2 linked regions of the Homo sapiens genome follow. The protein of the gene in region 1 purifies or fractionates together with the protein of each later gene. This does not show direct contact. Each region holds a gene or a part of one and is shown in the gene's direction. Other genes may lie near its edges.

Evidence for each region. The genes of interacting proteins can lie anywhere in the genome.
Region 2: the proteins of ZMIZ2 (region 1) and TCF25 purify together in Homo sapiens (affinity purification with mass spectrometry, with the first as the bait; one large-scale study listed by BioGRID). This does not show direct contact.

Annotation. Positions count from the first base shown.
Region 1 is NC_000007.14:44,751,847-44,755,346, forward strand, and holds part of ZMIZ2 (zinc finger MIZ domain-containing protein 2), read left to right. Parts: intron 1-3,500. UniProt on the Homo sapiens protein: Increases ligand-dependent transcriptional activity of AR and other nuclear hormone receptors.
Region 2 is NC_000016.10:89,876,592-89,880,091, forward strand, and holds part of TCF25 (ribosome quality control complex subunit TCF25), read left to right. Parts: intron 1-3,500. UniProt on the Homo sapiens protein: Component of the ribosome quality control complex (RQC), a ribosome-associated complex that mediates ubiquitination and extraction of incompletely synthesized nascent chains for proteasomal degradation.

The DNA of each region.
Region 1 (3,500 bases):
AGTTACTCAGGAGGCTGAGGCAGGAGAATCGCTTGAACCTGGGAGGTGGAGGTTGCAGTGAGCCTAGATCGTGCCACTGCACTCCAGCCTCGGTGAAAGAGCAAGATTCCATCTCAAAAAGAAAAAAAAAAAATTAAAGATTCATGTGCATTATAAGAAATGACACAGAGAGATTTATTCTGTCCTTTACCCAGTTTGCCCCAATGGTAACATCTTGGAAAACTAGTACAACATTGCACCAGGACACTACACTGATACAGTAAAGAGGTTACAGCCTGTTGCCTTCTATTTTTTTTTTTTGAGATGGAGTTTCACTCTTGCTGCCCAGGCTGGAGTGCAATGGTGCGATCGGCTCACTGCAACCTCCACCTCCTGGGTTCAAATGATTCTCCTGCCTCAGCCTCCTGAGTAGCTGGGATTACAGGCGCCCACCACTACGCCCGGTTAGTTTTTGCCCAGCTAATTCTTATGTTTTTAGTAGAGTTGGGGTTTCACCATGTTGGCCAGGCTGGTCTCGAACTCCTGACCTCAAATGATCTGCCCACTTCAGCCTCCCAAAGTGCTGGGATTACAGGCGTGAGCCACCGTGCCCAGCCTGTTGCCTTCTTATATTCACGCCCACCTTCCTCCTGCCAAAATTACAGAAATGGAGAAGAGATTAGTACCTTTCTCTTTACCCCCACATTTAACCCCTGGCAATCACCAATCTGTTCTCCATTTCCCTAATTTTGGTGTGTCAAGAATGCTAAATAAAGGAATCGTACACCGTGTAGCCTCTTGGGATTGGCTTTTTCCACCGAGCATTAATTCTCTGGAGATTCATCCAGGTTGTTGCATATATCAGTAGTTCATTCCTTTATATTGCATCCGGGCTATGGATGTACCACCGTTGATTTAACTCTTCATCCATTGAAGGACATCTGGGCTGTTTCCATTCCATAGCTCTTGCAAATAAAGCAGTTATAAACATTTGTGTACAGGTTTTTATGTGAACATAAGTTTTCATTTCTCTGAGATAAATGCGTACAAGTGCAGTTGCTGGGTCATAGTAGGGTAGCTGCTTGCTTAGTTCCATATGATACGGCCAGACTGTTTCCCAGAGTGGCTGTACATTTTACATTCCCACTAGTAATGTGTGAGAGATCCAGTTTCTCCTTGCCAGCATTTAGTGATGTCACTATTTTTTATTTTAGCCATTCTGATGGATGTATAGTGATATCTCACTGTGGTTTTAATTTGCATTTCCCCACTGACTAGTGATGCTGAGCATCTTTTCTTATGCTTATTTGCCATCTGTATATTCTCTTTGGCAAAGTGTCTCTTTATGTTTTTTGCTTATTTTCTAATTGGAGTTTTTAATTTTAATTTTTTTTTTTTTTAGTTTTGAGAATTCTTTTTTTGTTTTGTTTTGTTTTTTAAATCATGGTTCACTCTGTCATCCAGGCTAGAGTACAGTGGCATGATCATGTCTCACCCCAGCCTCCACCTTCTGGGGTCAAGTGATCCCTCCACTGCAGCCTCCTGAAAAGCTGGGACCACAGGTGCATGCCACCACGCCCAGCTAATTTTTAAATTTCTTGAGGAGTCGGGGGTCTCACTCTGTTGCCCAGACTGATCTTGAACTCCTGGGCTCAAGCAGTCCTCCTGCCTCGGCCTCCCAAAGTGCTGGGATTATAAGTGTGAGCCACTGTGCCTGGCTGAGAATTCTTTATATGTTCTAGATACTAGTCCTTTGTTGGATATGCAGCTTGCAAATATTTCTCCTGGCCTGTAACTTATCTTTTCATCCTCTTAGCAGGGCCTTTCCCGAAGGAAAAATTTTAATTTTGATGAAGTCCAGTTTATCAGTTTTTTTCTTTTATGGATCATGCCTTTGGTATCAGGTCTAAGAGCTCTTTGGCCTAGATCACAAAGATTTTCTCCTATATATTTTCCTGAATATTTTATAGATTTATGTTTTACAGTTAAATCTATAAACCATTTTGAGTTACTTTCTGTATAAGGTGTGAAGTTTAGGTGTTTTTTGTTTGTTGTTTTGATGCCCAGTTGCTCCATTGTCCCAGCACCATTGGTTGGAAAGGCTGTCCTTCCTCCTTTGAATTGCTCTCGCACCTTTGTCAGACATTGTTTGGGCCTATTTGTGCAAATCAATTTCAGATTCTCTGGTCTCGCCTGTTGGCCCATGGTTCTGTTCCCATGTTGGTACCACACAGTTTTGATTACCATATCTATATTCTAAGTCCTAAAATCTGTGTATGGCTGCTCAAGGCCCCACCCAGCAGTTCTGGGGAGGAGTTTCTGGCTGTTGGCAGGTTCCTCTGTCCCCCAACATCACTATTCCTGAGTCAGGCTATGGGACTGGGATTGCCACCCCTACCTTGCCTGGCTGGGCCATCTCAGCTCCCAGGCCTGTTCTTGCCTAGAGTCCAGGTGCCTGGAGCCTTCTGGAGCCATCAGCCCCTGGTTTTCTTCACCCCTGCTTCCTGGGCAGGACTTGGTCTGGGGGAGCAAGGGGAGGAGCCTATGGGCTGGGAATCAAGTCTTGCCTCCCCTGAGGGTGTGAGGAAGTCCAGAACACTGCCCTCTCCCTCTTCCCTAATTGGTACCCCCCAGTCCCAGTGCTCGGTGATGGGAAGATCCAGTGAAAGGCCACATGCTTAGACTCCCCAGGCAGAGCTCAGCTCTACTTCTCACCTGCTCTGGGGCCCTGGGCACACAGCTCGCCCTCAGAATCTCCAGGTCTATATTTTGAGGGGTGAGGCTGTTCCTACCTCCATTGGTGAGGCCCTCGGTCAGCACAAGAAATGGCAGCCTAGATGAATGCGGGGCCACCCTCTCCTGGGGCAGGGAGAGGCCATGTGAGTGCTGCGATGGCAGGATGGCACCAGTGGTCAGCACGCCTCAGGTGGCATGTCTGTGTGTGTGGCAGCCTTGTAGGCCCTAAAAGGGAGTAGTATCCAAGGCGAGCATGCCTGGGGACTCCTGAGAAACAGCTGAAGCGGCCTCTCCTGTGCTGCAGCCAGTGTTCCTCTGTGGATAGCCTAGGCAGGCAGAGGTGGACATGTCAGGTGGTCCTGGGAGTGTCAGAACCCAGGGTAGTGCCAGTGAGGGCCCTTCAGGGACACTCAGGGGCAGGGCTCCAGGGCATGTCTGGGCCTGCTTTGGTAAGGGGCTTGCTTGTGGCAGTGTCGGAAGGCGTGGCACTCAGAAGCAGCCTGAAGGTGTGGTCACTTCCGTGGCTTATTTACTAAATGGGGAGAGCAAACTTAGCGTGGCACATGTAAGTCCCATGGTGCCAGCACTGTGGTCCTGCATGCGTCCTCCCTGACACACCCCCTCTGCTGCCCTGTCCTGAGCACCAGGTCACTGGTATCCACTCAGCCCCATCTTGCAGAGTCACTTCAATGTCTCCCCAGCCCCTTTCTTAGAAACACTGGCCAAGTCACAGTCCCTGCCAGGTCTGTGGGTGCCCACCCTCCATCTATTGTGCTGTGTGTCCC
Region 2 (3,500 bases), on another chromosome or scaffold:
AGCAGCCTGGCCAACATGGTGAAACCCCATCTCTACTAAGAATACAAAAATTGGGCCAGGCGTGGTGGCACATGCCTGTATTCCCAGCACTTTGGGAGGCCGACGTGGGCGGATCATGAGGTCAGGAGATCCAGACCATCCTGGCTAACACGGTGAAACCCCGCCTCTACTAAAGAAGTACAAAAAAATTAGCCGGGTGTGGCGGCGGGAGCCTATAGTCCCAGCTACTCAGGAGGCTGAGGCAGGAGAATGGCGTGAACCCAGGAGGCGGAGCTTGCAGTGAGCTGAGATCGTGCCACTGCACTCCAGCCTGGGCAACAGAGCGAGACTCCATCTAAAAAAAAAAAAAAAAAAAAAAAAATTGGCCAGGCATGGTGGTGGGTGCCTGTAATCCCAGCTACTTGGGAGGCTGAGGCAGGAGAATTGCTTGAACCCAGGAGGTGGAGGTTGCAATGAACTGAGATTGTGCCACCAGGCTCCAGCCCGGGCAATACAGCGAGACTCTGTCTCAAAAAAATAAATAAATAAATAAATAAATAAATCGTAATAATAATTATGGATTTGTCTATTTCTACTTTCAACCCTGTCAGTTTTTGCTGTGTGTGGGTGTGTGTGTGTTTTGGTTTTTTGGAGACAGAGTCTCGCTCTATTGCCCAGGCTGGAGTTCAATGTCACAATTATAACTCACTGTAATCTTGAACTCCTGGGCTCAAACCATCCTCCCACCTCAGCCTCCCAAGTAGGTGGAACTATAAGTGGGTGTCACCACACCTGGCTAATTTTTTCAATTTTTTTTGAAAGCCAGTGTGCTGGGATTATAGATGTGAGCTACCATGCCTGGCCTAGAATCTTTTCTGAACTGATTGGTAATGAAAATAGCAACCTATCAAAATTTGTGGGATGCAACTGAAACGATGATTAGAACTTTATCATCGTAAATTTTAAATTAGAAAAGTGTTTAAAAATCTAGAAATTTACCTGAAACTTCTACCTTAAACTAGAAAAAGAGCAAATTAAACTCAAAATGTGTCGAAGGAAGAAACTAATCAAAGAGGGGAATGCACAGAATAGAGTATGGACACGATGGAGAGAATCGGTGAGACCGAAACTTGGTTCTCTCAAAAGACGAGTTGGCAAAAACTCTAGATTGACTGATGGAGGGAAAAAGGGAAGGTCCAGGTACGTTACCATTTTCAGGGATGGGAGAGGAGTGTTCACAGGTACAGATGGTGCAGATAGTAACGGGCGATAAGGAACTTCTTGCTAATAAATTTTCCAGATTAGACAAATGGGCAAGTTCCTTTAAAGATAAAACTTATCTAAATTGACATGTGAAGAAATAAAAAAATCTGAGCCCTTTTATCTATTAAAGATACTGAATTTTTTAAAGTATAAAACATTCCAGGCTAGGGTTGGTGGCTGACACCTGTAATCCCATCACTTTGGGAGGTCAAGGCAGATCCATCACTTGAGCTCAGGTGTGTGAGACCAGCCTGGGCAATGTGGCAAAACCCCATCTCTACAAACAATACAAAAAAACTGTCCAAGTATAGTGGCACTCACCTGTGGTCACAGCTACTCGGGAGGCTGAGACGGGAGGATGGCTTGAACCCAGGAGGTCGAGGCTGCAGTGAGGTGAGATGACGCCACCGTACTCCAGCCTGGGTGACAAAGTGAGACCCTGTCTCAAAAAAAAAAAAAAGACAACCTCAGGCTGGGTGCGGTGGCTCATGCCGGTAATCCCAGCACTGTGGGAGGCCAAGGCGGGTGGACCACCTGAGGTCAGGAGTTCGAGACCAGCCTGGCCGACATGGTGAAACTCCGTCTCTATTAAAAATCACCATTTTTTTTTTTTTTTTTTTTTTTTAGGAAAAATGGACATTTTCCTCTCCCCCTAAAAAAAGATAAAACTCCTTCCTGGTTATTAACTGAAATGCTGATCGAGCTTTATCCTAAAGAAGATCAGTCGTGGACAAGAACCTTGTGAAATGTTCCCCATTTGAGACCCTAAAACTAATGAAAATCACAGCTTTTGGGTAGGTAATAAGGTGTTTTGTTTTGTTTTTTGAGACGGAGTCTTGCGCTGTCGCCCAGGCTGGAGTGCAGTGGCACCATCTCAGCTCACTGCAAGCTCTGCCTCCTGGATTCACTCCATTGTCCAGCCTCAGCCTCCTGAGTAGCTGGGACTACAGGCGCCCACCACCACGCCCGGCAAGTTTTTTTGTATTTTTAGTAGAGACGGGGTTTCACCGTGTTAGCGAGGATGGTCTTGATCTCCTGACCTCGCCATCTGCCCACCTCTGCCTCCCAAAGTGCTGGGATTACAGGCGTGAGCCACCGCGCCCAGCCAGTAATAAGGTTTGTCTGACGGTGATTGACAGCATTTTAGAGCTGATGCATGGCAGTAGAGATTGCAGCAAATCATGTGTCATCACCAAAACTTCACTGAAGAAGCAAAACTAGGCCTGTCACCCGTGCTGTCTGTGTACACAGATGGGCTTCAGAGCCTGTCACACGTGTTGTCCGTGTACACAGATGGGCTTCGGGGCCTGTCATACGTGCTGTTCGTGTACACAGACGGGCTCCTGGGCCTATCACCCGTGCTGTCCGTGTACACAGATGGGCTTCGGGGCCTGTCACACGTGTTGTCCGTGTGCACAGATGGGCTTCGGGGCCTGTCACACGTGTTGTCCGTGTACACAGACGGGCTTCAGAGCCTGTCACACGTGCTGTTCGTGTACACAGACGGGCTCCTGGGCCTGTCACACGTGCTGTCCGTGTACACAGATGGGCTTCGGAGCCTGTCACACGTGTTGTCCGTGTACACAGATGGGCTTCGGGGCCTGTCACACGTGTTGTCCGTGTACACAGATGGGCTTCGGGGCCTGTCACACGTGTTGTCCGTGTGCACAGATGGGCTTCGGGGCCTGTCACACGTGTTGTCCGTGTGCACAGATGGGCTTCGGGGCCTGTCACACGTGTTGTCCGTGTGCACAGATGGGCTTCGGGGCCTGTCACACGTGTTGTCCGTGTGCACAGATGGGCTTCGGGGCCTGTCACACGTGTTGTCCGTGTGCACAGATGGGCTTCGGGGCCTGTCACACGTGTTGTCCGTGTGCACAGATGGGCTTCGGGGCCTGTCACACGTGTTGTCCGTGTGCACAGATGGGCTTCGGGGCCTGTCACACGTGTTGTCCGTGTGCACAGATGGGCTTCGGGGCCTGTCACACGTGTTGTCCGTGTGCACAGATGGGCTTCGGGGCCTGTCACACGTGTTGTCCGTGTGCACAGATGGGCTTCGGAGCCTGTCACACGTGTTGTCCGTGTACACAGACAGGCTCCTGGGCCTATCATGTGTGCTGTCTTTGTAAACAGTCAGGATCCCAGGACTATCACGCGTGCTGTCCATGTACACAGGCAGGCTCCTGAGCCCATCACACGTGCTGTCCGTGTACACAGATGGGCTTCAGAGCCTGTCACACGTGTTGTCCATGTACACA